Homo sapiens: one gene and its partners. The protein of the gene in region 1 purifies or fractionates together with the protein of each later gene. This does not show direct contact. Each region holds a gene or a part of one and is shown in the gene's direction. Other genes may lie near its edges. The genes, in order: MEAK7, NMT1 and NMT2.

Region 1 (10,823 bases):
CCTCTGCCTCCCAGGCTCAAGCGATTCTCCTGCCTCAGCATCCCAAGTAGGTAGGATTACAGGTGTGTGTCACCATACCTGGTTAATTTTTGTATTTTTAGTAGAGACGGGGGTCTCATCATGTTGGCCAGGCTGGTCGCGACCTCCTAACCTCAAATGATCTGCCCACCTTGGCCTCCCAAAGTTAATTTTTGTATTTTTAGAGATACAGTTTCACCACGTTGGCCAGACTGGTCTCGAACTCCTGACCTCAAGTAATCCACTCGCCTTGGCCTCCCAAAGTGGAGGGATTACAGGCGTGAGCCACCACGCCCAGCCCCCTACTTCTGTTTTTGATTTAAATAATTTGAATTGTCTCCCTTTTTTCTGTCAGTGTAGCTAAAGATTCTTCATATTTTTGTTGATCTTTTCAATGAACCAACTTTTGGTTTCATTAAAGAGTAGCTGTGTAGTAATAACTTTTTTAGACAAAAATCAGGTAACACAGTAGAAAAGCAGCTTAAGAGCTGAGAGGAACTGGTCTGTTTATAACTTTGGGGTTCTGTAAAGAAACAAATTTCTCTCAGAAACGAGTGTGGCACCTTCTCTGTTTTCTTTAAGGAATCCCAGACTCTTAGACATTATTTTAGGTCCTTCATACAGCGGAGGGTAGCAAGAGGAAGGAGAGACACGCAGAAGCAAATGGAGAAAAAAATTCAGTTGATTGAGAAGGAAATAAATCTTCTTTTTTCTAAAAACAAGACCCTAGGAGAGACAAAAAGGCATTATGTCCCTTTAAATACACACACACACACACACACACACACACACACACACACACATCTTGATTAGCTTTTAATTAAGCTGACTTTAACCATTGAGCTCTTTAAAAAAATCATTTTAAATCTTTTACTACCGTATTTTACCTGGGACAAAAATGACTGGTATTTCAAAAGTAACACAAATATCAAACCAGAAAGGATTTTGATGTAGGAACCAAACTCAGGCTGTTGAGGTAAAAAAAAAAAAAAAAAAAAAAAAAAAAAAAAAAAAGGCGGGGCAGAAACTTAGCCGCCCAGCGAGAGTGTGGGCCGCTGCCCTGGGTCTTTTAGTTTGGGCCTGGCTAGTAAAGGTTATGGAAATAAAGCCCCTCAAGGCAGTCAAAATGTTTTTTTCCTTTTGGTGGCCTTGCTCTTTCCTTCTTTTTTTTTTTTTTCCCCCAGCTATGGGAATTTAGCCAATTCAGAGGCCTTGTTTCCCTATAATTTGGAACGTTCCCTCGGATTTGACCAAGTCAGGTAGAGTTGATCAAACCAAGTGGGAAAAAGACTGAAACAATAAAAACAGAAGCCACAAATAAAAACAGTTCAGCAAAACAAACACACGCTCACACAGTTTGTACAATTACTGAGTGCTCTAATGGTAAGGAGAAGACCATTGGTAAATGAAGACCAGTTGGTTGTTTAAGTTTTAGTCATCAGGAGAATTTTTAAGACAAAACCCCAATTCATCTACTTTCCTAGGAGTGGGGCCCAGGCTGCAGACTGCCCTCTGCCATCTTAGAAGCAGGAAAACCTCCAATTCCCCTTCCCTGTTGGAAGCGAGCTGCAACTCCAGAAAGCAGTTGCTTGCCCTCTATCATTATGGAAACAGGAAGACTTGCCTTCCTTTTTGGAAGCAAGTAAAACTCAGCAAAATAAACCTTAGATCTCAACCAAATTTGGGGAGATCAGGGATTTTCTGGAGGGGGTAGCTCCTGGGCCTCAGCAAATCATCCTGTTGGTTTGAGCAATGAAGACAGCAGGCATTGTGGAGCTGTCCATCCTCGGGGAGTCCTAAACCCCAATACTGTTGGGATGAGGTCAGAACTCCTGGACAAAGGCTTTGGGAAAAGTTCTAGGCCAGCCAAGTGCATCATTAGAAAAACGAGTAACTACATACATTGCATGACCTTTCCCCACATTGTGGCCCATCATAGTTGGTGTTAAAGAAAATTGCCCTTCTCCATGTGGGCATGACATAGGTCTCAGGATATGGTGGAACTGTTTTTAATGGTAAAATTGTGATCTTACAGTTTACAGAGGATCTGGTTGGCTCTGTGGTGCACGTGCTAAGCCACAGACAGGAGCTGAGAGGCTGGACTGGGAAGGAAGCCCCAGGGCCCAACCCCCGGGTGCAGGTGCTGGCTGCTCAGCTGCTCTCTGACATGAAGCTGCAAGGCAAGTGTGCGTGGACGCGGTGATGCAGGTCTTTTGCTGTAGAGCGGTACCTGCTGTCTCCATTACTGTAGCTGTGTAGTAAAGCTTTGAAACCAGAATGCGTGAGCCCTCGAACCTTCTTCTAGGTTTTCTAGTTTGTTGGCATATTTTAAAATAATCCTTATTTTCCCAAAAGCAATAGGGATGTCCCCACTTCCATTACTGATTTAAATAATTTGTCTCTTGTCCCTTTTTCCTCTTAGTCTAGCTAAAGGGTTTTCACATTTTTGTCGGTACTTTTTGAAGAACCAGCTTTTAGTTTCATTAATTTTCTGTTGTCTTTCTAGTTTCTATTTATTTTCCTCTAGCTTTTATTTTCTTCCTTCTGTTTGCTTTAAATTTGTTTGGTCTTCTTTTCCTAGTTTCTTAAGATAGAATACTAGGTTATTGATTCGAGATCTTCTTTTTCAAATAAGCATTTACACTTGCACATTTCCCTTTCAGCACTGCCTTCGCTGCATGCCATAAGTTTTGATAGGTTATGTTTTTATTTTCATTGATCTCAATATTTTCTAATGTCCCTTAGGATTTTTTCATTTGGCCTACTGGCTATGTAACAGTGTGTTATTTAATTTCTCCATGCCTGTGAATTCCTCAAATTGCCTTTTAGTACTGATTTTTGATTATATTTCATTATGTTTAGAGAAGATACTTTGTATTATTTGAATCCTTTAAAATTTGTTGATGCATCATTTATGGCCTATAGTATGGTCACTTCTGGATAATGTTTAAAGCACATTTGAGAAGAATGTGTATTCTGTTGTTGGGTGAGAAGCAGTATATATTTAAATTTAATTGGGATTAAAAAAAAAAACCTTGTGGCAAATCACTTTGCAAAGCAGACTTACTTTATAAATATGTTGCCCTTTTGTTTTAAAGCCAGATTTTAAAGTACAGCTTGAAAATAGGTTATATTTCAGAAGTTAGTTTAGATGAGGTATTTGGAACTTGGAAAGAATTTTACAAGTAAGTATCAGTAATTCGTCTTATGGGTAAACTGTTCATCCATCTAGAATCAGTATGTTTTAAAAGAAGAATCATGAAAATAAAAATTAAAGTTTTCAGTGAAGTAGAAAAGGTAATTCAGACGATTAAAATTATCCTTAAGATTTCAAGTAATATATAGGTAATGAGAAATGAAACTGTTTGAAAAATAAATAGAAATGATAGGAATTTTGAATTATCAGAAGTTGGGAGTACTTTTACATTTCCTGCTTAATAAAATGGGCCTGAGTTACACAAAATATTTCAGCTTAGTCAAATTTTCGCTAGGTTGGGAATTATAATCTCTGTAAATGGGGCCTTTGTGTCAGCAAGAGCTTAAGACGTAAAAGCTCCTCTGTTCCTTGTAATAACCGAGCGGGGCAGGTTCTGGCCTTACCTCCATTTTATACCTGAGGAAACTGAGGCACAGAGGTCCAGACCTTGGCAAGGTCATGCTGTTCCTGAGCTCGGGTTTGAAGCCAGCTGTTCGAGTCCCAGGTGTGTGCTCCCACGCTCTTACTGTCACCTCCACTCTTAGTGGGTGAGGGATGGAAAATAGGGCTCCAAGTGCTGTATGATTAAGCCTGATTAGTGGCGAATGAAACCCGCACTTCCCAGATAAACTGCAGGAGTCCCAGGAAGTGCCCTACCAGCCCCTTGACTGGCTGGGAACATTCCCCTTCCAGTGACCTTGGCAGGACCGACGCCCTTGGATGAGCGGCTCCAGGTGTAGCTCAGGCATTTATTCCAGCCCCATTGCCAGGGCACTGCCATCTCGAGGGGTTCTGAAATGCTGCTTGGAGAGGAGAGAAAAGTGTTGAAGTCGGATTGTTTAGATCAGTGCTGGCCAATAGACAAAGCAAGCCCCATGTGAAATTTTCCCTTTTCTAGGGACCATGTTAAAAGAGTAAAGAGAAACAGGGGAAAACTGATTCTAATAATATGTCCTAAATACAATTTTGAAATGTAATGAATATTTAAAAATTGAGATATTTTACATTCTTTTTTCATACCAAATCTTTGAAATCAAGTGTGCCTTTTACACTGACGGCACCTCTCAATTCACACGAGCCCTGTTTTCTGTGCTCAGTAATTGCATGTGACTCGTGGCTCCCACACTGATCAGTGTGGGTTTAGATAGTAGCTAAATGGTGACATAACAGCCCCACTAATGCTGACCATCCCCTTCCCCTAGATGGCAAGAGACTTCTGGGGCCCCAGTGGCTGGACTATGACTGTGACCGAGCTGTGATCGAGGACTGGGTGTTCAGGGTCCCCCATGTGGCCATATTCCTGAGTGTGGTCATTTGCAAGGGCTTTCTCATCCTGTGCTCGTCTCTTGATCTGACTACCCTGGTCCCTGAGCGTCAAGTGGACCAGGGCAGGGGTTTTGAGAGCATCCTGGATGTCCTCTCTGTCATGTACATCAACGCCCAGCTGCCTCGGGAGCAGCGGCACCGCTGGTGCCTGCTCTTTTCGTCTGAGCTCCATGGACACAGCTTCTCCCAGCTCTGTGGCCACATCACTCACCGGGGACCCTGTGTGGCTGTCCTCGAGGACCATGACAAGCATGTGTTCGGTGGGTTTGCCTCTTGCTCTTGGGAGGTGAAGCCTCAGTTTCAAGGTAAGACTTGGTGTCCTGAACCTTGACGAGTGGCACAGCACGGGCAAAGAGCTCTGGAGAAAGGGAGAGGGTGGGGGTGCTAAATAGGGCTCTCCCATCTTCTCCAAGTGTTTCTCTAGACGCAGTCGGGGCGATAGGAAAATGTGATGCTGCTCTATGGTGTTTATCACATCAGAGTTCTTCAGGACAGGCCGTGTGACCCCCAGTTTTCAGGCGAGGACACGGGCCCAGTTATTACACGGTGCCGGGTCTATGGGGCGTGGGAGAAGTCAAGCCACAGATGCCTCCGAGGGGACCAGGAGATGGTAATTGGTTCAGATCGGACATTTTCCTTCCCTGGGCCTTCCTGCCCCTGCCCCCACCGCCACGCGTTTGCTTGTTGGAATTTGGAAGCTTTGTGCATGACCTTGAATGCACTGGATGAAAGGTTCTAAGTAAATTCTTTTCCTTCCCTCAAGGAAGAATACTCTGATGAAAAGAGTCCTTTAAAAATATTTAAAACACAGGCCAGGTGCAGTGGCTCACACCTGGAATCCCAGCATTTTGGGAGGCTGAGGCAGGAGGATCACTTGAACCCAGGAGTTTGAGACCAGCATGGGCAACATAGTGAGACCTTGCCTCTATCTTAAAAAAAAAAAAAAAATAATAAGGCTGGGCGTGGTGGCTCAAGCCTGTAATCCCAGCACTTTGGGAGTCCGAGGCAGGTGGATCACTTGAGGTCAGGCATTTGAGACCAGCCTGGTGAACGTGGTGAAACCACGTCTCTACTGAAAGTACACAAATTAGATGGGTGTGGTGGCGCATGCCTGTAATCCCAGCTACGTGGGAGGCTGAGGCATGAGAATTGCTTGAACCTCGGAAGCAGAGTTGCAGTGAGCCGAGATCATACCACCGCACTCCAGCCTGAGCAACAGAGCGAGACTCCATCTCTAGATAGATAGATAGATAGATAGATAGGTAGATAGATGGATGGATGGATGGATGGATGGATAGATAGATAGTTTTTGAAATGTTTACAGATGCGTCGCCCATCAGTGGGCTGTCCTCTGTACTTGAGAGTGGGCCACCATCCCCAGGGTTTGCCTTTGGCATTCCCCGGTACATCCTGTATCTTACCCCGCACCTCTGGAATCGTCATTTCTCCACCAGGCAGAGGTTCTGAAGGCCGGGAACTGTGTCCAGGTGGAGTTGCCCTTGCAGGAGAGCTTTCAGCAGAGGCTAGGTGGCATCTGGCTGGAATAGGTAGCAGGGGTCACCAGGTTGAGGGTTGGGCACCTCTATCTCCTAGATTGCATTGTTTCTAGGGTTTGATTTATATCTAGGTTTCAGGATGTTCTAGATCTTTATCTTAGTTCTGGGAATGGTGGGAATTCTCCCCAAATCAAAGTTTCCAGGTGCCAGCCCAGGGCCGGCCCTGCAGGTGGGCCTTTCTAGAGACAGCAGCCTCAGCCTTGCCACGGCCACTCTCTTCTGCACACCCACCTTGCCCTGCCTCCATGTCACAGGCATAGGGCATGTGCCCACCAGCCCAGCCTCGGGCTCCGGGGAAATTACACATTGCTCTGCCTCACTGCATGGCTGAAGGCTCGGCTTTAGGATATGAAGAGACCCTGAGCATCATGATCAGGGTAAAGCTGCTGCTCCCTCCAGAGCCTTTAATGTTAATTTCAGATGGACTCTGCTGGCTCTTTATGTTTTATTAACAAGCAGACTTAATCTTGCTGAAGCATGTGGGAAAAATGCAGTGGCCAAGTTTTCAAACCCGAGTTCATTCTGTTGCAGTACGTGTCCATACTCACGAAACAACAGCAGAGGGCAGCCTCACACCACGCATGGTACAAATCCGTGGACTGTGGGTCAAGTTCGGAGAGCGTGCTGTCCGCTTGTCCTGGAAATAATGACCTCTAATATCTGAGACTTTAAGTGATTTAATAGCTGTGGGACAAACAATGAAGGCAAATGCTGGGGAGGGTGGCCACCTCCTTGAGTACAGAGGATATTTCCCTGCGGGGTAATGTGGCTTCGTAAACCTTTTTAAAGGACTGTTTTCATCAGAGTGTTTTTGCTTGAGGAAAGAAGAACTGATTATACTTAGAGCCTTTTGGCTTGTGTTTTCTGTGCAATCATTGAAAAGGCCCAAGGCTTTGGATTGAACACAGGATTTTGAGTCCCAGCTCTAGCCCTGGGCAAGGTGATTGATTCATTTTCTGGGCCTCAGCTCCTCAGAATTACACGAAACCATGCTGTGTGGGCAGGCAGCTCCTCGGCGGCCGAGCGTCAGGTGCTGGTGGCCGCACGCTTGGGTATTGTTTTATGGGAATGAGATAAGGAGTCCTCGTTGTTGGTGTCACTTTTTTCCACAGATAATCATAACTCATCAGGTCCTTGCCCTGTATTCTGGGAATGATGCTTCCCCCTCCTGGCTTTCCCTATGGAGAACAGCCCTTGGGGGTGGACTAGGATCTGGGCCTATCGCAGCTGAGGCCTGAACTCTGTGGCCCTGCGACCTTGCTCCGCAGCAAGACGGGCTCAGGATTGCAAAGCAAAGGGCCGCTTACCTGAAGTCCAGTCGGGGAGAGCGGGGCGGGGGCAGTGCAGACGGGTGTGACCCAGCTGTTCATGGCGGCGTCTAAACCTGCCCTCAAGCCTCTGGGGCTGCTGAAACCCAGTGAAGCAAGCCTGAGTCTGTAGCCCAGAGTAAAGCCCTTCACTTAGCTGGTTCCAGTGGAACTTTCTAGCCTAACTATCCTCCTTCCTCCACCCGATGCTCTCAAGCCCCACTGTTCCGTACCTGTCCCACACCTTGTCCTCATGGGATCCCTTCTCCATGGGGACTCTTGCCCCAGCCAGCTCTGTTTCAGGGCCTCCCTCTTGACCTCGGAAGCTGCCTCCCAGAAGCCTCCCAGACCCTGATGGCAGAGGCCCCCCAGCGATCTTTCTAGATTGGAGCCTTGGGCGGTGTCAGCCCACACTCTACAGACTGAGCCCTGTTGGCTTGCTCGGGGCCATCGTCCTCTTCCAGCCTCCTGGTCTTGGTGCCCCCTTCTTATCTGCGTTCCATCATGGTGCCCCCAATTTGCTTCCTGTGACTTCTTTCCCACCTGATGAATAGCCCAACCCCAAATTCCCATGAGCTTGTTTCTCTGCAGCCTTCCAGCTTGTTGTGACAGTTGTGTATGCTGGTGTCGAGGCGGGCAGCCCTTCCGGCCAAGTCCTCAGAACATGGTGGGAAGTGTCCCTCGCTGGGAGCTCCGAGGACGAGGCCTGGCCTACGGCCCTGTCCCCAGTGCTGAGGTGCTTATGGAGTGGAGGAGTCTCTGAGACTGGGGACCCATAGTTTCCAGAGTTTTGACTGGTACCTTTCTTTTAATGGCCTGTGTGCCCACCCCATGCCTTTGGGCGAGGGTAAACTACTTCCTTTCGTAGGCCGTGCCCCTGGGGACAGCTCTGCAGCTGCAGGTTTTCTCTCTCTGCATGGTACGTTCTTTCAGGCCGGGGTCAGCACTACGCAGCGTCACTTGCCTGCTCAGGTAGGCTGTGCTGGAGGCCTCAGTCTCTGCGGAGTGACCACCTGCCCCGTGCTCATAAGCTAAAGGAAGCCTGCTCTTTCTGGCTCGGATGTGCTTGGCCAGCCTGAACTGATTCCAGCAGACAGTGGGCAGAGTTCTGATCTCTGCTCCCCTGGCCAGAGCTAAAAGATGTCCCATTCCTTATTAGCTGTCCCTCTAATCCCTGCATCCCCAGCTCATCCACCTGGGTCCCTAGCAGCTTGTCCCAAACCCTGATCTGCCGACACCTGGACATGGGTGAGAAGGGTCTTGGCCCTGTTGCTTCCTGAGCTGCAGCTTACCGGCATTTCCGGCCCTGTGGGACCGGCTCAGACACCGACCCTGTTTGTTTTGTTCTCTGGCTACTTTCAGGGGACAACAGATGCTTCCTGTTCTCCATCTGCCCCAGCATGGCTGTGTACACACACACGGGCTACAACGACCACTACATGTACTTGAACCATGGACAGCAGACGATCCCGAACGGACTGGTGAGCCCGGGCAGAGCGTGGTGGTCTTGCCTTGGTGATGTCCCCCAGCAAAGGTGTCAACCCCGAGGCTCAGCTCCACAGATCAGGGCAGGGCGCGTGGCATTCAGTTCCTCACGCACGCCATGTCCAGTTCCTTCTGTTTCCAGGGCCGGTGCTGGGGGCAGTGACAGCTGGGCCAGGGTTTCCCTTAGAGAAGGATGTGGCCTCTGCTGGGGCTTCTCAGTGGTTTGTGTGCAGATGGCACACTTGGCCCATTTTTCTGGCCCTCAGATGATTGGTTTGTAGCCTTTGTGGCTAGGGATGGTGTCAGCGCCAGACCTGTCCCTGCGCGTCGCTGGCCTGCCTCATACGTGGGAGTGCTGGACCAAGGGGAATGGACGGCCGGCAGCTCATGAGACAGCATGTGGGGCCCCAGTTGGGGTGACCGTGGCTCCTGTCCAGCCCTCGCTTCAGCTTGGTGACATGGCACAGGAAGCAGGGGGAAGCGGGGGAGGCCTAGGCCGGGTGCAGGGAGTGGGTGGGCACGGGTCCAGGCAGGCCCGAGGGCAGGAGTTGGGGCAGCATCCACGCCGAAGCTCAGCTTGCTCCTGCCAGCTCCCCTGCTGATTTCTTTCCTCTGCTGCTTGACAGAAAGCTCTTTTCTTTTCTTTTTTTTCTTTTTGAGATGGAGTCCACTCTTGTCCAGGCTGGAGTGCAGTGGCGCGATCTCGGCTCACTGCAAGCTCCGCCTCCCAGGTTCACGCCATTCTCCTGCCTCAGCCTCCCAAGTAGCTGGGACCACAGGCACCCGCTATCACGCCTGGCTAATTTTTTTGTATTTTTAGTAGAGACGGGGTTTCACCATGTTAGCCAGGATGGTCTCCATCTCCTGACCTCGTGATCCACCCGCCTTGGCCTCCTAAAGTGCTGGGATTACAGGCGTGAGCCACTGCGCCCAGCTGACAGAAAGCTCTTATTGGGAAAATCCAGCCCTGTTTCTGCAGAGCTGAGGGCAGAGAAGGCTGGTCCGATATAGGGACCAGCGTCCTTCCCAGGCTTACCACACTGCTGCCCTGGAGAGAGGGAGGGGCGTGGCCAGGCCACCTAGAACACCTGGCACCTTCTGGAAAGGGCGGTCTGGTGGCGGCAGGAGTGAGGGTGCCAGCCTCACAGGCAGCACCCGGCAGGCCCCGGTCATCGCTCGTCATTGGCCCTGAGAGAGCGGCTCCGCGTGTCAACTCTGGGCAGTGTGCTCGGGTCTCTGGTTGCCCAAGGTCAGAACTAGGGCGTGCCAGGTGTTACAGGCCTACCAGGGACCAGAGGAGGTTCTCTGCAGGGTGAGATTGAACAGCTCAGAGCCCAGCCATGTGACTGAGGGTGGAAGGCACAGGGGTTCGCATCCGCCTCCGGGTCTGCCTCCGCATCCTGTAAGCCACACACTCGGAGCTGAGTTTCCCAGCCTGTCTTGGGGTGAGGATCGCTGCCCGGAAGCGGGGCACTGGGGCCCCAACACAGGGGGTTTGCAGTGTCAGCTTCTGTGTTCACCTCTCCCCTTATCTTAACTGGGCGGGGCCCTGGGCCCTGGAGGTCTCTTTCTCTATATATATTTAACATTTTTAATTCTCTGATGTCACTTGTGCTTTCAGCCAGCAAATCTTCTTGAGAAAGAGCCATGGGGTGGGTGTCTGGAGACATAGATGACTGTTCTAGTAACTTGGCATGGGATGCTTAAATGGCAGTAATTGATATATTTCACAGTTAAGGAAAACAAGATGATGGCATTCACCACTCACCCGCCCCTGTCTCAGGCTGGTACTTAAGGCGAGAGGCTGGCTTGTGGTATTTGATGTCCACAGACCCTGAGGAGTTGCTGATGCTATTCTCTGTCCTGGCTTCCTTTGCAGGGTATGGGGGGGCAGCACAATTACTTTGGGCTTTGGGTGGATGTTGATTTTGGGAA
Region 2 (10,823 bases), on another chromosome or scaffold:
GAAGGCGGCCGTATTTAAAAAAGAAAAAAGAAAGAAAGAAAGAAAAGAAAAGAAAAAAAGGGTCGTTGTGGAAAATTCTTGTGGGGAATTAAAGGGACCACGTGTGCGCGAAAGAGCTTGGCGAAGATAAGTACCTGGAGGCCAAGATGAGGCGGCGAGCCCTGCCTCCCTAGCAGTGTGGTCTCCTGGCTTAGGGTCAGTGCTTCGCACAAAAAAATCCACTGCCTCTCATGAGACCTTGAACTGCCAATGACCGCAGGTTGCCCAGACTCCCGAGTGAGGAAGGCGGCCAGGAGTCAACTAGGCTTCTTGCGGAAAAGCCCACTCTAAGAAGGCCTGGGGCATTCCGGCTCCAGGCAGGTAGCACCCGCGGGCCTCAGGCCCTTTCACTTACCCGGGAAACGTAACGGTCCTTAACGGCAGCCAATAACGGCTCCCAGCGGCCCAGGCACTGGCAAGGGCAGGCTGAAATCAAACCTCGGATTTTGGAACCTCCACGCCTGAAACCCTAAACCAGCATCGAACTACAACTCCCATCATGCCAGGCGGCCGCCCGGTTCCCAAGGGTCGGTCCCACCAACCTTGCGCCCCTTCTTTCCTCAAAGCGTGGCCGAATGCCTAGGCTTCCGGGTATCAGTGGCCCCGCCTCTTAATCCGACCGGAGCCGTCCCTCGTGATTCCTGGGTATTGTAGTCAGTTTCCTGGGAAAGAGTCGCTCCTAGTGGCAGCTCGCTTCGCCAGAAAAACTACAAAACCCAGAATGCAGCGCAAATTCCCCTTGTCCAATAGGAACCCCCCATGTAGTGGGGCGCGGAGCCCTGCTCTCGCAACTCAAGATGGCGGACGAGAGTGAGACAGCAGTGAAGCCGCCGGCACCTCCGCTGCCGCAGATGATGGAAGGGAACGGGAACGGCCATGAGCACTGCAGCGATTGCGAGAATGAGGAGGACAACAGCTACAACCGGGGGTAACGAAATCCTCGGAGTCCAATTCCCGTCCAGCCTCCCACAACCTGGGTCTCTGGGGTGCGGGGAAGTCACCGGGAGCTTAGTCTAGCCCCACCCTCATGTTCTTATTGGCTAAGTCACTAGGATTCTGCCTGGCGATTGGTTATTGCCTTTGTCATTTACCAAGGGTGGGTGCTCTGGATATTAAGGGCCGGAGACGTTCAGTACTTTTATTATATAAAAGTTCTATGCAGTGTTCCACTCGTGTGCTTCAGGCCATTCCTGGGAAAAGAGCATGTTGGACGATGGTTTTCGATGGTACAACACAGGACAGTCTAGTAACAGTACAGTTCAAAGGGAACGTTACTTATAGACGTGTTGTTTGAACAACGTGACTAGCAATAAACGAATCATAAAACATTTCGCAGCAGTTCACCCTCAGTGAGGAAACTCATCAGACTATACAAACTGTATGTATAATTATATTGTAAAATATCACTACCAGAGAATCCCAAAATATAAACTCACCTTATAAACCTATGTAATTAACGGTATGGTAATGCTTTGATTTACATAGTTTCCATTGCTCCAAATAATCCATAAGTATCCTGAACGATATATTAATATAATTAAGTCTTCGAACATCTTTGCCTTGTTACCTTTGCAGAGCAGCCCCAGGCTTCAAGAAATGAGCGATGTTGTTTCTTGGAGAGTATTTGGAATCCTCGGGCTCCATACTGCCTATCCTGTACTTTAGGGTCTTGCCATTAGTTACTATTTGTTCCTAGGGATGAAGAAACACACCAGGCATTTGAATGTTGAATTCTTTTCCCAAATTAGTTTTTACTTCTGTAAGCCACAGCTTATTCATCTTTCTTCACATGGTTAGTGCCTGGCACTGGCACTCACGCTGTCTCTCCCCATCTTCCTGTCTATATTTGTAGATATATTTTTAAACTGAAAGTCGTGAGAGATTTTTGGGTGTATAACTTGCTGAGTCTGAGGTAGTCTGATTTTCGTAGCCAGCTTGTTATTCGCAGTATTGGTGGCAGTGCAGATATAAAGGTATAAAGACCAAGGACTGCGTAGAAGAGATGGTCCCACAAGATTATAGTACATATTTTTATTGTATCCTTTCTATGTTTAGGTATGCTTAGATACACAAATACTTACCATTGTATTATAGTTGCCTGCAGTACTCAGTAACATGCAGCAGCCTATTGCTCCTAGGCTACAAACCTGTATAGCATGTTACTGTAATGTACACCATATAGCCTAGGCATTTAGTAGGCTATACCATCTAGATTTGTGTAAGTACACCCTATAATGTTGGCAAGGCAAAAATCACCTAACCATGCATTTCCCAGCACATATGCCTGACGTTCAGTGAAGCATGACTGTATTTAAGTGGTTTATAATCTGCTTGTGGTAAATCTTAGGTTAAAAGATCTAGCTTTTATGTTCTTCAGCCGGCATTAAAAATCACAGGAAGGGCCGGGCATGGTGGCTCATGCCTGTAATCCCAGTACTTTGGGAGGCAGATCACGAGGTCAGGAGATCGAGACCATCCTGGCTAACACTGTGAAATCCCATCTCTACTAAAAATACAAAAAATTTAGCCGGGCGTGGTGGCGGGCGCCTGTAGTCCCAACTACTCGGGAGGCTAAGGCAGGAGAATGGCGTGAACCCAGGAGGCAGAGCTTGCAGTGAGCTGAGATCACGCCACTGCACTCCAGCCTGGGCGACAGAGCGAGACTCCGACTCAAAAAAAAAAAAAAAAAAAAAAAATCACAGGAAGAAAGTAGAGGAATAGGAAGCTTGCCAAATTTAGTTTTTATAAGACTGTTCTGTTGCTGTAACTCACAACAGATCTAATGTAATAAAAGTCTTCTTTTGAAGTTTGATATTCCTAAAAATGGAAGAGCTGAGAAAGAGGAAGTAGGAACAGGAAGAAGGGAAAGTGAAGCTCTCCTGAGTAGAGATCTGAATCACAGATGAGAGTTGGTGAATGTGAAAGTCATTCCAGAAGTGAAAGTGTGGCATTTTCTTTGCTCTTTTTGTAGTTGCTTTTATTTTTATCTTCTTAACTGTTGTCCTGACCAGTGTCCTTAGGTTTGTGCCCTATAATCTGTGAATCACTTTTCAAAACTGTGTGCCAGAAAGTTATTTTATTGGCCTGGCGTGGTAGCTCACACCTGTAATCCCAGCACTTTGGGAGGCCGAGGCAGGTGGATCACTTGAGGTCAGCAGTTCGAGAACAGCATGGCCAACATGGTGAAACCCCGTCTCCACTAAAAATACAAAATTTAGCTGGGCATGGTGGCGTACGCCTATAGTCCCAGCTACTCCGGAGACTGAGGCAGGAGAATCACTTGAACCTGGGAGGTGGAGGCTGCAGTGAGTTGAGATTGCACCACTGCACTCCAGCCTGGGCAATAGAGCAAAGCCCTGTCTCAGAAAAAAAAGTGGCACACAGTGGCTCATGCCTGTAATCCCATCACTCTGGGAGGCCGAGGCGGGTGGATCACGAGGTCAAGAGATTGAGACCATCCTGGCTAACATGGTGAAACCCTGTCTCTATTAAAAATAGAAAAATTAGCTGGGCATGGTGGTGCATACCTGTAGTCCCAGCTACTCGGGAGGCTGAGGCAGGAGAATCACTCGAACCCGGGAGGCGGAGGTTGCAGTGAGCTGAGATTGCGCCACTGCACACCAGCTTGGCAACGGAGCGAGACTCCATCTCAAAAAAATAAATAAATAAAATTATTTTATTTGTAGTAGAAGTAAGTGATAACCTTAAAAACTTTGACAGTTTGCAGTGGTGTCTCTGTGCATGGTTATGGTCTGGGTGAAAAAATTATGTTTATTAGCGTCCCAAATCTAAAGATCTGTGAAAATGAGTTTGGAGGTAGTAGGTGAAAAACCAAGGGCCTAGTCTGGAGGAGAGAGTCTAATTCTGGCACTAAGAATCTGGGGTAGAGTCAACATTTTTCCATGAACTTTGAGAGGAAATGGTTTTGGGGAGAAGCAGCAATGTGGGAAAATGCAGCACGGCACAGTAGAAAAGCATGGACTTTGGAATAATTTAAATCTGGTCTGAGGCCAGGCGCGGTGGCGCACATCTGTAATCCCAGCACTTTGGGAGGCTGAGGTGGGCAGATCGCTTGTGGTCAGGAGTTTGAGACCAGCCTGGCCAGCATAGTGAAACCTCATCTCTACTAAAAATACAAAAATTAGCTGGGCATGATGGCAGGCGCCTGTAATCCTAGCTACTTAGGAGGCTGAGGCAGGAGAATCACTTGAAAACAGGAGGCAGAGGTTGCACTGAGCTGAGATCTCTCCAGTGCACTCCAGCCTGGGCGACAGAGCAAGCCTCTGATCTCAAAATCTCATCTCAAAGCTTGGCTCTGACACTTAACAGTCCTGTGACCTTGGGAAAGGTACTTAACTCAGAGTTGTAGGGATTAATGAGATAACATCTGGAATGCACTCCTTTTCCTCCCTCCTCCTCTTTCTTCAGATCGTCCCTAACCTCCCAGCTTGCCCCTCTGCTCTTATCACATACTGTATTGTAGCTTTTATCGTAACAATAGTTATAATAACAATAAATATAACTACATGTTTGGTAATTTTTCTTAATGTGTCTGGTACCTGTCTCATCTGACAGTAAGGAGCATGTAAACAGGATTGTGTCTTCGAAATGCCTAGCACTTAGTGGGCATTAATGAGTATTTGCTGTATGAATGAATGGCAGATATTAAAGTGCCTAGCCCAGTATTAGTGGAGTTTCATCTCCCCTCACCAAGTGAGAGGATGTCAGATTTTTCTTACATACACATTTTCTCTCCCCAAATAATTCTCATTGTAAGCCTCACTACAGTTTTTATGAAATACCTACAGAGGCAGGGCATGGTGGCTCACACCTGTAATCCCAGCACTTTGGGAGGCTAAGGCGGGCGGGATCATGAGGTCAGGAGATCGAGACCATCCTGGCTAACACAGTGAAACCCCATCTCTAATAAAAATACAAAAAATTAGCCAGGTGTGGTGGCGCATGCCTGTAGTCCCAGCTACTCGGGAGGCTGAGGCAGGAGAATGGTGTGACCCTGTGAGGCGGAGCTTGCAGTGAGCCGAGATTGCGCCATTGCACTCCAGCCTGGGCGACAGAGCCAGACTCTGTCTCAAAAAAAAAAAAAAAAAAAAAGAAATACCTACAGAAACCAGGAAGCTCCAATTTGCTGTGGAGCTTTCCACTGTTGTGTGCTTTCCACTGTGTTTTGCTTCTTGAAATGTTTTTTGTCTTAATATTATTTAAAATGTTCTCAAAAATCATGTAAAAATTGACAGAGAAGTTTTCCTTTCAATGCTAGAGAGTCTAAAATGTGTAATATATAATAAAGGTTAATGATAGTTCGAGCTAACCCTTATTCTCCTGGGCCTTTTTTTTTTTTTAAAGAGACTGTGTCTCGCTATGTTGCTCAGACTAGTCTCAAACTCCTGGGTTCAAGTGATCCTCCTGCCTTAGCCTCCCAAAGTGCTGGGATTGTAAGCATGAGCCACCACACCCAGCCTCCTGCCCCTTTTTTTCAGGAACTAAAGTCATAGTACTCTATGCTAATAAAATGAGCTAAATTCATGTACTGGATTCTGTTGCCCGGGCTGGAGTGCTGTGGCGCGATCTTGGCTCACTGCAACCTCTGCCTCCCGGGTTCAAGAAATTCTCCTGCCTCAGCCTCCTGAGTAGCTGGGACTACAGGAGCACACTGCCACACCCGGCTAATTTTTCATATTTTAGTAGAGACGGGGTTTCACCGTTGTTGCCCAGGCTGGTCTTGAACTCCTGAGCTCAGGCAATCCACCTGCCTTGGCCTCCGAAAGTGCTAGGATTACAGGTGTGAGCCACCACGCCCGGCCAGTTGTATTAGTTACTTATGTCTCTTTGTATATGAATTTAGTTCTTGACTTTTCTGGTCTTGTGTTTCCTCCGTAATTAAATCAGCATAAACATTTGGTGAATATAAAACTTCATGTGGTTGTGTGTAGTGGCTCATGCCTGTAATCTCAGCACTTTGGGAGGCTGAGGCAGAAAAATCACTTGAGCTCAGGAGTTCGAGACCAGCCTGGGCAACATGGTGAGACCCCATCTCTATAAATAAAAACAAAAAAACCCAAACCCTTCATGTATACATATAGGTATACATGCATACATATGCAGTGTGTATGGGTGCGTCTCTTCAGTTTTTCTATTTAAAAATTTTTTAATTTAATTTTAAAATTATTGTTATTACTTTGGAAACAGGGCCTCGCTCTGTCGTCCAGGCTATAGTACAGTGGTGTGATCATGGCTTACTGCAGCCTTTGACCTGGGCTCAAGCGATCCTCCCACCTCAGCCTCCCAAGTAGCTAGGATTGTAGACATGCACCATCATCCCTGGCTAATTTTCTTTTTAAAAAGTTTCTGTAGAGATGGGGTCTCACTATTTAGCCCAGGCTGGTCTCAAACTGCTGGCCTCAAGTGATGCTGCCACCTTGGCCTCCCAAACTGCTGGGATTGTGGGCATAAGCTCCTGCATCCAGCTGGTTTTGTTTGTTTTTTTACTGCACTCAATTTCCCCCAGTTACGTGCCTAGCGTAATTATCCTGAACAATTGAGAGGAGAGTCAGATAAGATAACCTTTATGCAGCATCCCCCTGTAGTTCGTGATTCATCTATATGGTTTAATTTGATTTTTTTTTTTTTTTAATGAGAGTCTTTCCAAGAAGTATTGCCAAAGAATAAATCTCATCAGTTGGCAGATTTTAATTTGGGGGTAATAAGTGAAGATTGTCTGAGTGTTTTGGAACAAAAAAGAACTTTTAGACTATTGTGTTCTAGGAATCTTTCGGAATTTATTTTGCAGTGTCTTCAGTGTCATTGAGATCCTGGTAAGCACGGGTCAAGAGCCCTCTGACAAGAGGTGTCTCATCTCCATCCTGCTCTCTTACTCCCTGGGACAGGTTAACATGGATTCTTTATAAGTTCTCCTCATTTCCTGGTTGTGAGATACTATCCCTTATGAAAACTTAGGAGGAGAGAAAAGTCTTTCTGAAAATAAATTCCATAAAGCTAGCCTTACTTGTTTTTGTTTTTTTCTTCAGCTTCTCCAAGAGTCGTTCTTTCCCTATTTATTTGATGGCTTATAGCTGCAGCTAGCTCTTGGAAATAAGAAATCTTTTTAGTTCCTTTTTAATTTCTCCCTTCAACTTTTGGTTTTTCAAAACTAGATCAAAGCAGAATGGAAAGAGAAACCTCATCACTGATATCAAATAAGTGTTCTAATTTTGTTTCCCAATTAAATGGCAATTAAAAAGAAACTAATCAAGAGCTGCTTCAAAGAGAAGAGACTGGAAAGCAGAAGAAATGGAAAGTAAATGAGAGCCTATTTCAGGGACTCGCTGCTCATGGCACAGCAGTTTTGCTGATTTTTCACATTGTTCAACTAATATGCTCACGCTAAAATTCCCCAGCTTTACTAAGTTGGCAGTTAACCCTTTCCCTATAGAGCCCATAGATTTATGAGCCATACATTTAGTAACTTCAGGAGGATGCTTCTTTAACTCTTTCTCTTCAGCTTTTTATCTGAAATCTCTACCCTTCAGGCCTCTCTTCCAATTCCTCAAAGAAGATGTCCTTGTGATTGTTACATTTAAGGGACAAAAATATGGTGTTCTCTATTGAGAGCGCCAAAAATACTAAACCGGAATTCCTCCATAGGCTCAGTATTTGCCTCAAAAATGTCCCAGCACTTTGAGAGGCTGAAGTGCGCAGATCACTTGAGGTCAGGAGTTCGAGACCAGCCGGGCCAACATGGCAAAACCCCATCTCTACTAAAAATACAAAAATTAGCTGGGCGTGGTGGCACACACCTGTAGTCCCAGCTACATGGGAGGCTGAGACAAGAGAATCACTTGAACCCGGGAGGCAGAGGTTGCAGTGAGCCCAGATGGCGCCATTGCACTTCAGTCTGGGCGACAGAGAGAGCCTCCATCTCAAAAAAATAAACAGAACAACAACTTTCTAGAGCTGCTCTCTTGAGAGACAACTGAGGAGTCACTATGGTTAAGTGTTTAGTAAATGTTACTATTATTACTACGTAGTGGGCATTGTGCTAAGCCCTTTACTTGGATTATATCCTCCATGATTTCACTTATGAAGACTTTAGCGATTTTTGTTTGTTTGTTTCTTTTTTTGAGTCTCACTCTGTCGCCCAGGCTGGAGTACAGTGGCACGATCTTAGCTCACTACAACCTCTGCCTTACAGGTTCAAGCAATTCTTGTGTCTTAACCTCCCAAATAGCTGGGATCACAGGTGTGCACCACCATTCCCGGCTAATTTCTGTATTTTTAATAGAGACACGGTTTTGCCATGTTGGTCAGGCTGGTCTCGAACTCCTGGCCTCAAGCAGTCCACCTGCCTTGGCCTCCCAAAGTGCTGGGATTATTACAGGCGTGAGCCACCATGCCTGGACTTTAGTTTTTTGTTTTTTTGGGTTTTTTTGAGACAGAGTCTCACTCTGTCGCCCAGGCTGGAGTGCAGTGGCGCGATCTCGGCTCACTGCAACCTCTGCCACCCAGGTTCAAGCGACTCTCCTGCGTCAGCCTCCTAAGTAGCTGGGATTACAGGTGCCTGCCACTGTGCCTAACTAACTTTTGTAGTTTTAGTAGAGACGGGGTTTCACCATCTTGGCCAGGCTGGTCTTGAACTCCTGACCTCGTGATCCATCCTCCTTGTCCTCCCAAAGTGCTGGGATTACAGGCGTGAGCCACCATGCCTGGCCAGACTTTATTTTTTATTATTTATTTATTTATTTATTTATTTATTTATTTTTGAGACAGAGTCTCGCTCTGTTGCCCAGGCTGGAGTGCAGTGGCGTGATCTTGGCTCACCACAACCTCCACCTCCCAGGTTCCAGTGATTCTCCTGCCTCAGCCTCCTGGATAGCTGGGACTACAGGCACATGCCACCACGCCCAGCTGATTTTTGTATTTTTAGTAGAGATGGGGTTTCACCATCTTGGCCAGGCTGGTCTTGGAACTCCTAATCTCGTGATCTGCCCACCTCAGCCTCCCAAAGTGCTGGGATTACAGGCATGAGCCACCACTGCGCCCAGCTAGACTTTAGTTTTTATAGTGAGGCTTGAGATTTGCATCTCCACTGGTCTCTTTGACATCTCAGAGGATCCATTCTGAACTTGCTAGGTTTCTTTCCCCTGCTGAATTGAGTTCTGCATCTTGAGTCTGCAGCAGTGTGAATCCTATCTTTGGCTCCATTTAACAGCCTATGGACGTTCCCAAACTTGGGACCCAGTTTGTCTCTTCATGATAGACAAATATTATTTTCAGAAGTCATTCTAATCGCACCACTGCACTCCAGCCTGGCAACAGTGAGACTCCATCTCAAAAAAAAAAAAAAAAGTCATTCTAGTAGGTGAGATTTCTGCCAGCATTGAGCCACTGCTCAACATATTCTTGATAATGGTCTCTGAACAGCATTTGATTTTACCTTGGAGTTGCAAAGTCAAAGTCTAACTCGCCAAACAAACTCAGTGTGGAATATACACATTTGTCTCATTCCGGTTTTAAGGAGTTTAGTATACCAGAGCTTTTGTGACCTCTAAAAAGCAGTTATCGTCCATGACAAGAATTGGCTCGTTCACCCTCAGTACTCTGGCTTACTATCCCAGGGAGGGCCGAGGGTGGCAGCAAAAGTGGTCTTTTGTAATCCCTTTTTATAACCTGCTGTTCTCTTCACAGACCTCCCAGGGTACCTTTTTTTGTGTGTGTGTGTGTGAGATGGAGTCTCACTCTCACCCAGGCTGGAGTGCAGTGGCGTAATCTCGGCTCACTGCAACCTCTGCCTCCTGGGTTCAAACTATTCTCTTGCCTCAGCCTCTCAAGTAGCTGGGATTACAGGCACCCGCCACCATGCCTAGCTAATTTTTATTTTTTATTTTTGAGACAGAGTCTCGCTCTGTCACCCAGGCTGGAGTACAGTGGCGCGGTCTTGGCTCACTGCAAGCTGCGTCTCCCGGGCTCACGCCATTCTCCTGCCTCAGCCTCCTGGGTAGCTGGGACTGTAGTCGCCCGTCACCACGCCCGGCTAATTTTTTGTATTTTTAGTAGAGACGGGGTTTCACCGTATTAGCCAGGATGGTCTCGATCTCCTGACCTCATGATCCGCCCACCTCGGCCTCCCTAAGAGCTGGAATTACAGGCGTGAGCCACCGCGCCTGGCCAATTTTTGTAATTTTTAGTAGAGAAGGGTTTTGCTATGTTGGCCAGGCTTGTCTCGAGCTCCAGACCTTAGGTGATCTGCCCGCCTTGGCCTCCCAAAGTGCTGGGATTACAGGCATGAGCCACTGTGCCCAGCCCCAGGGTACCTTGATGGCAGTACTAAAGTGTTTTTATTTTTCCCATCATTTGGGATTCACAAGCAGTTTTTGATATAACTAATTGGTGGGAATGTGCGGAGTTGGGGGTATTGCACTGAGTGATCCTTAGCCGCAGAAGTACAGAGACTAGACAGCTGATACTGATTCATGCCATGTCATTTCCTTCTGGGCATCTTTGCCATTTCATTCACCTCTCTTTGGTCTTTCTGAGTACTAATAGGATTATTAGTGAACTTACCATACTTCAAGAGTTAATTGATTTGCAAAAGGATTTCCTGATGTCTAAAAGTAGAATCAAAAGGATATTAGAGGTTAGAGTTTATTTTAATAAGTTTCTCTGGAAAATTTGAATTTCTGCCCAAAAAATTCATTTTTTATTTGAGACAAGGTTTCACTCTGTCACCCAGATCGTAGTGCCATGGTGCAGTCCTCCTACTTCAGCCT
Region 3 (10,894 bases), on another chromosome or scaffold:
GAGGTCTCACCACATTGCCCAAGCTGGTCTCAAACACCTGGGTTCAAGCAATCCTCCTGCCTCAGCCTCCCAGTGTGCTGGGATGACAGGCATGAGCCACTGCACCTGGCTTTTTTTGCTTTTTAGTCAGGTTTGCTTCTCTCTTTAACTGCCACATATTTTGTTGTTGAAGGAGTGTGAACAACTGTGTGCTCACATATAATTCCTGGAAGAAATCTCTGTTTTCAGAAGAAACAAGTAAAACTATCTCTCCATCCTATCGCTTTACTTTGAGTTTTTATGAAAATCTATGGTAAGGAGAAATTGTGTCTGAATACTTCTGCAACTAGACTATTAAAAGGTCCTGAGCCAGGTGCAGTGGCTCACACCTATAATTCTAGCACTTTGGGAGCCAAGGTGGGAGGATTGCTTGAACCCAGGAGTTTCAGACCAGCCTGAGCAACATAGACCCTGTCTCTATAAAGTATTAATAATTTTTAAAATTAGCTGGATGTGGTGGTGCATGCCTGTAGTTTCAGCTGCTCCGGAGGAGGCTGAGGCAGAAGGATCGCTCGAGCACAGGAGGTAGAGACTGCAGTGAGCCATGATCACGCCACTGCATGCCAGCCTGGGTGACAGAGTGAGACCCTGTCTCAAAAAAAAAAAAAAAAATGGCCTGGAGGATATCATGTTAAGTGAAATAAAGCAGGCACAGGAGGATAAATTCTTCATGTTCTTACTCATGTGGAAGCTAAAAAAATTGATCTCATAAAGGTCAAGAGTAGAGCAGTGGTTACTAGAGCTAGGAAGGGAAGTGGGGAGGGGGACTAGAGAGGCTGGTTAATGAATACACAATCGTAGTTGGATAGGGGGAATAAATTCTGGTGTTCTATAGCACTATAGGCAGATAATAGTTAACAATTTATTGTATATTTTCAAATAGCTAGAAGAGAAGGTTTTGAATGTTTCCAATGCAAAGAAAGGACAAATGTTTGCGGTGATTTTTTTGGCTAATTACTCTGATTTGATCATTATACATTGTATGTATATATGGAAATATCACACCACAGCCCATACATTCCATGGGCTATATTATTAGGTGCCCACTAAAAGCAACTTTAGGTTGAGGCGGAAAGATTTCTTGGGCCCAGGAGTTCGAGGCTGCAGTAAGCTGTGATTCTGCCACTAAACTCTAGCCTGGGCAACAGAGCAAGACCCTGTCTCAAAAGAGATATAATTTTAATTTAAAAAAAAAAAAAAACAGCTAAGGCTGGGCTCCATGGCTCATGCCTGTAATCCCAGCACTTTGGGAGGCCGAGGCAGGCAGATCACTTGAGGTCAGGAGTTTGAGACCAGCCTGGTCAACATGGTAAAACCCTGTCTCTACCAAAAAATACAAAAATTAGCCAGGTGTGGTGGCACATGCCTGTAGTCCCACATACTCAGGAGGGTAAGGTGGGAGAACTGCTTGAACCTGGGACCAGAGATTGCAGTGAGCTGAGATCGCGCCACTGCACTCCAGCCTGGGTAACAGAGTGAGACCCCATCTCAAATAATAAAAATAAAATTAAATTTAAAAACAGCTTTAGAAAGATATTGGGCTGGCAAACAGGGAAAAAAGGGGTGTCATAGATTCATTCATTCGTTCTATAGCTCTTATGAAGTGTCCTCTTTGTTACAGGCACTGTTTGGGTGATGGAGATACAGAGAGAAGCACATGACGTATGATTCTTCAGGAGCTGCTGGGCTAGTGCTGGGATGATGGCAAACATATAAACCCTCGGCAGGGGAGGCAACATGGGAGCTGTGTCCTTGGTGATGGCAGGTAGTAAGGAAAGGGCATTCAAGGGCCTGGTGCCTCCAGAGACGAGGAAGGGAGCCCGGGGCATATGGAGGGCCTGGAGAGGCTCAGGTCAGAGCTAAGACCAGAGGTACAGTGAGGCTATGGTGTGGAAGGGACTTGAACACCAACCTAGGGGGATTTGACTTGATGCAGAAGGCAACTGGGAGCCACATTGTTTCTAAGTCAGGGGATGAACATGCTCCGATTGCTATGGAAGAATTTTCCAAGCAGCGCTATTGAAAAGAGTGATGGAGCCTGGATGCAGGGAGACATGGCATCTGGAGGCTGCTGCAGCCCTTGGTGTGTATACAGCTGGCGCTCACCTCTTCCCCTTCTTTGTTTCCTCCTCCCTTTCCTGATTTTCCTCTATCTCTTTCCTCTTCTTTACCTACTGCCCTCACTTTCTTCATCAGTTACTTTCTCCTCCATCCTTTCTTCCTGAAAGGGCCAGAAGCTCTAATTGTGGACAGGCTAGAACAGATCCTTTTGCCTCCTTTAGTATTTCTACTTCGAGTAAAAATGTCTGATGAGACAGTGTACTTCTGTAATATATCATCCTTATCAATAAAATAACTAATGAAGTTTGGCAATAAACTATCCAGTGATATACTCGTGGGGAAAACCTGAACACATTTAAGGAGTTTGGCAAGCAGTGCAGTTTCAAGGTGACCCTATTTATAGAATGGAGGCACCTTCCACCTCCTAAATGAACACATACTTCCATCTGCTGTGGCATTGTTCGGCTTCCTCTAGAATTTTCCTTGGCATCACCCGCAAGCCCCAACTTGTCCTACAGGGACAAGACACAGACTCACCAACTGTGAAGTTCTGAAATGCAGCTGATCTGCAATACTCACTGTGGCACCAACCTGCTGGTTTGAACAAGTATGAAAACCTTTTAGCAGAATACCAAGCAATAGGAGGTGCAAATTACCCTCACAGTGACCACGAGAAAAGCTTCTCCAACGCACAGTTGCAAATGGTGCAGGGTAGTTACCGGGTTCCTCAAAAATTAAAAAGAAACGGAGTCACTTAAAAAATAAAATAAAATCCAGCCAGACTCTAAAGCAAACCAGCTAGCAAGAATAGCTAGTGTATTGCAAAAGTAATGGGCTTTGCTTTTGTGAACCCAGAATGGAAAGTGCAAACTAATGGTTTGGCATAAGTCTTTTTCAGACATACCCAGATATACAGATAGTGATCGTGATAGTAAAAAAAGGAGTGTCTTTAAGATTTTTTTTCTTTTTTTCTTTTTTTTTTTTTTTTTTGAGACAGAGTCTTGCTCTGTCACCCAGGCTGGGGTGCAGTGGCGCCATCTCGGCTCACTGCAAGCTCCACCTCCTGAGTTCACGCCATTCTGCCTCAGCCTCCTGAGTAGCTGGGACTACAGGCACCCGCCACCACACCCGGCTAATTTTTTGTGTTTTTAGTAGAGACAGGGTTTCACCGTGTTAGCCAGGATGGTCTCAATCTCCTGACCTCCTTATGCGCCCGCCTCGGCCTCCCAAAGTGCTGGGATTACAGGCGTGAGCCACCGCGCCCGGCCTAAGGATTTCTTTTGGTCTTTGTTTTTCTGTAAGTTGGTTAGTTATTACTGCATAATAAAGCACTCCAGGCCGGGCGCAGTGGCTCACGCCTGTAATCCCAGCACTTTGGGAGGCTGAGGCGGGCGAATCACTTGAGGTCAGGAGTTTAAGACCAGCCTGGCCAATATGGCAAAACCCCGTCTCTACTAAAAATACAAAAATTAGCCCAGCATGGTGGCGGGCGCCTGTAATCCCAGCTACTTGGGGGGCTGAGACAGGAGAATCGCTTGAACCCAGGAGGCGGAGGTTGCAGTGAGCTGAGATTGTGCCATTGCACTCCAGCCTGGGCAACAAGAGTGAAGCTCCGTCTCAAAAAAAAAAAAATGGTTAGGATAGTACGTTTTATGTTGTATGTATTTTTCCAAAATTAAAAAAGAAGTTAAAACAATTTAAATGAAACAAGACCAATTGTACAACTATAATCTTACATCTGTAGTAGGAGTGGGCCAGGCAGAATAGAAAATTCCCAAAGGCCTTTTAAAATACACTGGCAAGATACTACTTAGCCCAGGGCCTGGTGGCTAGGCTGGTTCTCTCCTTTCCAATTGGAGGCCTCTGCCGCAGACACGCTCCACCAGATCATCGGTCAGGCCAAGAAGCATCCAAACTTGATCTCCCTCTTAGTATTTATTGGAGCTAGAGGTACTGGAGCAGGACTGTATCTCTTGCGTCTGGCATTTTTCAATCCAGATGTTAGTTGGGACTGAAAGAATCACCCAGATCCCTGGAACAAACTGGGTCCCGATGATCAATTCAAGTTCTACTCAATTAATGTGGATCACAGCAAACTGAAGAAAGAAGGTCCAGATTTCTAAATGAAATGTTTCACTATAAAGCTGCTTTAGACTGAAGGTCTTCCAGAATCCGTCCGCACAATTTTCCACTTCACCAGGAAATAGTTCTCCTCTAAATGAATGAAATCATGTTGATGTAATCTATTGGAGATTACACTGATTAATAAATAACTGAAACTTGAAAAAATAATACACTGGCAGCCATTTCACAGTGCTCCCATCCACCAAATAAACTTTAGATCTAAGATGCTGGAAGTTGCCACTTGGTTCCAATTCTCCAAATTCTGAAATTAAGCCAGGGAAATAAGTAAAAATATTTAGAAACATAGTGTTTCTATACGGGACAGTAGGATTTAGGAAGCCCCAGGGTCATCTGTAAACTTTTCCTTCCTTCCAAAGATTAATGCTGTAAAACATTTGTATTATATAATACTTCAATCCAGTACTGTACCGATGTACTTCAATCCAGTACTGTACCAACTTGTTTCCATTCTGGGGAACAGATGTTCCCTGTTTGTCATTGTTTTCTAGTGTTTCACTGGTTTTTGATGCCCTCATTTTATTTTTCCAGGATTATTTGTTTTCTTATTCTTTTTTAGAGCAGTTCTTAGTCAAAACTTCTTGAAAATTCAGATAAATATATGACTGCTGAGTTTCCTTTGCCTTAAGTTTTAAAAACTCTTTTAGAGAACCCTTCTGGCAGGTTAGAGTGGATGATTTGATTGATAGGCTTGCTCCTGGCCAGTTTCCTGTTGGTTACCCGAGCGGGCTGCGGGTTCTCCAACAATCCATGTTCACAGAGATGAGCTGCAGGAACCTCACTCATCTGTATTTGCTTCTATCCTAAAGTTTCACAGAGGTGACATGTGACATTTTGCCTCAGAAATAGTTGCCGTTGTTAAAGGCAATATTGTATTTCCTTTTGTGTTTTGACCCCATTTGCCCTTCTTACAGAATTTTAGTTGTCTCAATGCCAAACAGCTGACGGGCTTTGAAATCGCTCTGCAGTTTTCATCTTTTGATACTTCTAGCTCATTGCGTTTTAAAAACATAGTCTCCCTTGGGGAAAAAAGCCATAAAATGCTCCTAGTATCTTCTGCAAAAAAAGGACCCACACCAAAAAATTCAGGTGGCTCTTTAAAGTCTCATTTTCCTCACTGAGCGGGTTCTGATGATTATCTTTGCAAAACCACTGCGGAGACTTCCGGTGGCCTAGCAGCACATTTGAACAAGATCATCTCAGCAAAGCAAAGGACAGGACTGCTCTGTACAGAATGCAGTAGCAAATAAGAGAGGCTGAACTTCACCGGTCTTCTATTTGGCAGTACTACAGAATGCCTCCCTTCCCTCTTCTGAGAGAGACAGCGGACAATTTCAGCACAGAAGGCCGTGCACGTTTGCTTGGAAATCTAGGTCATGACCTTGACTTTGGGAAAGCCAGGGTAGCCTACCTGAAACTGTCCAATCCCCCAGCATCGTGGACACGTCCCCAAGTCCCTCAAGATGTCTGTTCTGGTCTGAGCCGTCCGTAGTAGTGTCCAGGGAAAGCAGGGGTAGCTCAAAAATTTCTGTCAAGAGTTTTAGTGCTGCAAGCCTGGTTGGGACAGGGCGGTGGAGGGCTGGAAATACTGTTTTTGACTTTGAATTTGATTTTATAATGTATTAGATGGATAGATAGATGCGAAATGGAATTGTTAACATGTATGTGGAGGGGCGGGAAGAGTTTCTGGAAAGCCCCATCCCTGAGTGCCTACTCCTGAGTGGGAAAAACCCCTGCACGGGCTGGGAGCGCTCCCTAATTCGTCCAGAAGTAAAATCGCATGGCCTGTGTTCCAAAAATGCCGCCACTCAGGATGTCAAGTCTGCACGTTTGCAGCTTTGAGAGCCGAGCCCCAGGCAGAGGCACCGCGCAGGCCTGGATGTACAGGACTCGGCCCTGTGCAGGGCTGGCCAGGGTGAGCAGGGTTGGAGCTGGCGGGGCGGGGAGGGGCGGGGCCATCTGGGAGGGGCTGCGGCGGTGGGCGGGGTTAGAGGGCGGGTTTGAAGCCGGCAGGGTGGGGAAAGGCGGGGCTGGAGGGGAGGGGTCTCAGAGGCGGGCGGGGTTAGAGAGCTGGATTGAAGCCGGCGGGACGGGGAGAGGCGGGGCTTGGTGGGGAGGGACGAAGAGGTGGGCGGGGTTCAAGCCCGTGGGGCAGGGCGGGGCCGGCGGGCAGGGCGGGGCCGGCGGGCTGGGCGCGGACGGTGAGGGGCGGGGATGGAGGGCGGGGCGGGACGGAGGGCGGGGAGGGGGCGGGACGGAGGGCGGGACGGGGCGCGGGCGGGGCGGGGCGGGGCGTAGCGCCCGGGCTCCGACTCCAAGCAGTACGGCGGGAGGCACTAGAGGGAGCTGCGGCCGCTCCGGCCCGGCCCCGAGCACCGCCTCCCCAGCCAGCGCCGCCGCGATGGCGGAGGACAGCGAGTCTGCGGCCAGCCAGCAGAGCCTGGAACTGGACGACCAGGACACGTGCGGGATAGACGGGGACAATGAGGAGGAGACGGAGCACGCCAAAGGGTAGGGGCGGCGCGCTGGCGCACCGGGCGCGACAGGGCGGGGACCGCGCGCGCCACGGTCTCCCGTTCGGGGGTGGCTCCCAGGACTGGGGGTTCTTCGGCCGCTCCGCCCCGCGATGGCTTCTCCGTGGCGCGGAGCCCATGGTGAGGTCCGGGGCGCGCGGCTCGCGGGAGAGTGCAGTGCGCGGGGAGGCGAGGCCCGGGGTGGGCGGGGAGGCTGGGGCCCGGGCGGGGAGACGCTACTGTCACTTGCCGCGCGCCCCCGGCCAGCCTCGCCCATCCCCGCCGGCGGCCTGGCCCAGGAGGCGCCTGTTGCCCTCGCCCGCGGGTGGCTCCGGTGGGCGCCGAGGAGAGGCGCTACGCCCTTCCCTTTGTGGCGGCCGCAGCCTGGGGTAGGAGGTCGCCCTCCTCTGCTCCCTGCCATCCTTGTTAAGTCCCTTCAGACTCCCTCTCCGCAGCCGCCACCCGAAAAGAATGGGCAAAGACGTGGGTGGAGCGGCGTGGAGGTGCCCCGATGGTGTCGGGGCCGCAGGCGGCGAACTGCGCAAAGTTCTGGCGCCGAGGGGGTCCCGGGCCCGGCCCCTGCTGGGGATACTGGGCTTTGCACCGCCTCGCCTGTCCCTAGAGCTCTTCAGAGCAGGGCCGATCCCCTGAACCGGGCTCCCGCTGACCTGGCCGTATCCTGTTTGCAAAGCTGGTATTTGATCTCCAAAACTCGATGCACCACGCATTTTCACACTTGATCGGATTTCTTAATCCTTTCCCTTTGCCCCCGAACCCTGCAGACTTGATTTGCTCTTCTGTTGGAGAAAAGGATTGCTTCAGGTGAAGGCCGGTGTTGATGCTCTCTTTTTAGAGGCAGTGGGTCATTTTAAATAAAAACTGGTGTCCTTTTAAAGTGCTGTTTACATTACCCTTTTACCCTATTGGATTCAAACTATGCGCTGGCACAGAGCGGTTCTTGCTACACCCTTAGAAGTGAGATTTTTCGAACCATGGTGAGTGATGGAGAAGTGGGTCAGCTTAAAAAACATGATAGGGAGGCCTGAGTCACAGATGGTTTACTCAGTTCGTAGAGAGATTCTTGAAATGATTGATCATTGAAAGTGTAAATCATTTGCATTCTACTTGTCTACTTTAAGATTTATTATAGAAAGGGACTTTTGACTGACCTCTAATTCATTATAAAATATTAACAAATGAAGAAAAAGAAAAGCTGACTATGTGCATCTCCCATTTGCAAGTTGTTTTTATCTTTGCCGTGAATACTTCAGTGGCGGCTGCAAGTATCGAATGTTCGAGTCTAGAATATTTTTTTTTTTAAAGAGAGGAAAGGAAATTGCATAGGAATCTGAACCTGAGCCCTGTTTATGCAGGGATAGAAACGTGTTTGTGATAGATAGCTAAATACAAATATGTTTTTGAAACGGTAGTTCTATTGCCAGAAATGGGCCCAGGTGCAGATGCAAGCTGATGGATTAGCTTCAGTACCTGTGTTTTCTTTCTGGAGAGACCCTGGACTTTTATCTTCTCTGCTGTAATTTCTGTTTATTGTTCCTCCTTTGATTGATATTCTAGGTTGGGGGCTTGATTAGGACTTCTTTGCTTACACTGTTGAGAATGCCCCTGGTACAAAGAATTCCTCATCTGTGTGCGCATTGATCTGAGCCTGTCCCCCGACACCTTTCAAGAAGCTAAAGTTCCCAGAGTAGCACCCAGAGGCATCTGTGCTGCCTTCGGAAGTTTTCAGTTTTGTATATCAGCACATTTTATATATTAGAAAGGTTAATCAAAATTTAGAGATGCCCCATGGACTGAAATGTTTTCACCAAGAGCAGATACCATGTTAATAGCTTCTAGTGGGAAAAGATTAACATAATGGATGTATTGTACTCTATTTAAATGTAAGGAGATTAGGAAAACTCCAAATGACTGCTCTCCTTGGATTGCCTGTTTGGATTTGAATTTAGACAATGTGTGCCAAATTTGGGGGAGTAAATGTGTTTTATTTGGCTCATGTACTGATGATATCGCAGTAGAAACCTAGGTTTTCTTTAAGTAGCTCAAGTTTGTAAATGTTAAAATTTGAAAGACTCTTTTTCTATACTCGGCCTCTTCATTCCCATCAGTTTAAATAAATAACAAATAATGAGCCTTTGGATGAATCAGTAAGAACATGTTTCACCTCTTAAAGGCAGTTTGTCAATTTGAGGCCACCAGGCAGCGGCCAGTGCAGAGAGGTAATTTACTGAATAGTGCCCTTGTGGCCTGAAAGAATTCATTTACCCCACCACTCAGTATAATGTATTTACTAGTCCTTTTAGACATATTAAGTTGAAACTAAAGCCTCAAATAAAAGGAAAATACCCAATTAGAGTCTTGTTTTGCACCAAAATGTAAGTATTTAAATATGTAAAACTGCATATGCTGTTCTTTTATTTTCATGGAATTTTCTTCATGGACTAAAAAGGGTATTTCGTTTTATAGATAATGCTAAGAGTCCATGAATGAAATATCAGATGTTTTATGTTTAATTAAAAGCAATGGCGTAAGTATTATAAAATACTTGAGTCTCACTGTCTTTATATCTTGTTTTTCATGGAAAATGTACCTTTTTTTTTTTTTTTTGAGACAGTCTTTCTCTGTCACCCAGGCTGGAGTGCGGTGGTGCAATCTCGGCTCACTGCAACCTCCGCCTCCTGGATTCAAGCAATTCTCCTGTCTCAGCCTCCTAAGTAGCTGGGATTACAGGCGCGTGGCACCACACCCAGCTAATTTTTGTATTTTTAGTAGAGATGGGGTTTCACCATGTTTGCCAGGCTGGTCTCGAACTTCTGACCTTAGGTGATATGCTTGCCTCGGCCTCCCAAAGTGCTGGGATTACAGGTGTAAGCCAGTGTAAAGAGTTAAATGTACTCTTTAACTTTTTGGTCCACCCAAGCGTGGAAGTGGCAAACCACTATAAAACTTTCATGAATTACAAAAAACATGGGGGAAGAAGGGATTGTCAGTTTTAATTAGTGAGACTATATTCAGACAAGTATAATTTTATTATTTTCAAACAATGTTTGGCAATTAGAACCAGGCTAATAGAGGATTGCCTAAAGACATCTTTATATAACTTACTTTAACACACGATTTGCAATTAGAATTAGGGAGTAGGTCTTTATAAAGAGCTTGAAGGAGCCTGGAAAGACTTTCTACATAGATAAAAATTAACCTCAGTCCAGCTTCCTATATGAATTATTAGAAATAGTCCAGATTACTGAAGATTTCTGTTCTGCTATGGGTGGCAGTGGTACAAAAAGGTGACCTGGAGGATGATTTTTTTTTTTTTTTTGAGATGGAGTTTTGCTCTTGTCACCCAGGCTGGAGTGCAATAGTACGATCTTGGCGCACTGCAACCTCCACCTCCCGGGTTCAAGCAATTCTCCTGCCTCAGCCTCCCAAGTAGCTGGGATTACAGGCGTGCATCACCACGCCCAGCTAATTTTGTATTTTTAATAGAGACAGGATTTTACCGTGTTGGTTAGGCTGGTCTCAAACTCCTGACCTGAGGTGATCCCCACCTCTGCATCCCAAAGTGCTGGGATTACAGGCGTGTGCCACCATACCTGGCTAATTTTGTATTTTTAGTAGAGATGGGGTTTTACCATGTTGGTCAGGCTGGTCTTGAACTCCTGACCTCAGGTGATCCCCTGGCCTCGGCCTCCCAAAGTGCTGGGATTACAGGCCATGGTGCCCGGCCTGGAGGATGAATTTCCTAGGAGCTTTCACCGTTGGATCTGAGGTTAAGATGCTCAAGGATCTTTAATACTTCCCTCATTTTGCTGTGTTTTTGCCTTCTGTTACTTTCTTCTGAAGGGCTTTGGGGACATTGAGGACAGGCCAAATTGTTGAAGAATTATTTAGAACCCACTGTCTTCTCGCTGTCCTTTTGATGTCCGGCTTCTCCAGTTATGAAATACATTTGGTATTGGTCATGATCTCTTACTGAGCTAATGTTATGGTCCATTGTTGGAGACAGAGTCAAATAAAATTCGTGTTGAACTTTGGTAACAAAACCAAATCTGTCCCCTTGCTTAACCAACATTGACTTACAGAGAGCATATACTTCCTAGAAAAATAGATGTTTCTCATAG

Evidence for each region.
Region 2: the proteins of MEAK7 (region 1) and NMT1 purify together in Homo sapiens (affinity purification with mass spectrometry; 2 studies listed by BioGRID and IntAct, with this or other methods). This does not show direct contact.
Region 3: the proteins of MEAK7 (region 1) and NMT2 purify together in Homo sapiens (affinity purification with mass spectrometry; 2 studies listed by BioGRID and IntAct, with this or other methods). This does not show direct contact.

Annotation. Positions count from the first base shown.
Region 1 is NC_000016.10:84,480,653-84,491,475, reverse strand, and holds part of MEAK7 (MTOR-associated protein MEAK7), read left to right. Parts: intron 1-2,053; coding exon 2,054-2,198; intron 2,199-4,416; coding exon 4,417-4,845; intron 4,846-8,765; coding exon 8,766-8,884; intron 8,885-10,767; coding exon 10,768-10,823. UniProt on the Homo sapiens protein: Activates an alternative mTOR signaling through RPS6KB2 activation and EIF4EBP1 repression to regulate cell proliferation and migration. Recruits MTOR at the lysosome, essential for MTOR signaling at the lysosome.
Region 2 is NC_000017.11:45,060,494-45,071,316, forward strand, and holds the start of NMT1 (glycylpeptide N-tetradecanoyltransferase 1), read left to right. Parts: upstream 1-823; 5' UTR 824-836; coding exon 837-967; intron 968-10,823.
Region 3 is NC_000010.11:15,164,362-15,175,255, reverse strand, and holds the start of NMT2 (glycylpeptide N-tetradecanoyltransferase 2), read left to right. Parts: upstream 1-6,562; 5' UTR 6,563-6,643; coding exon 6,644-6,753; intron 6,754-10,894.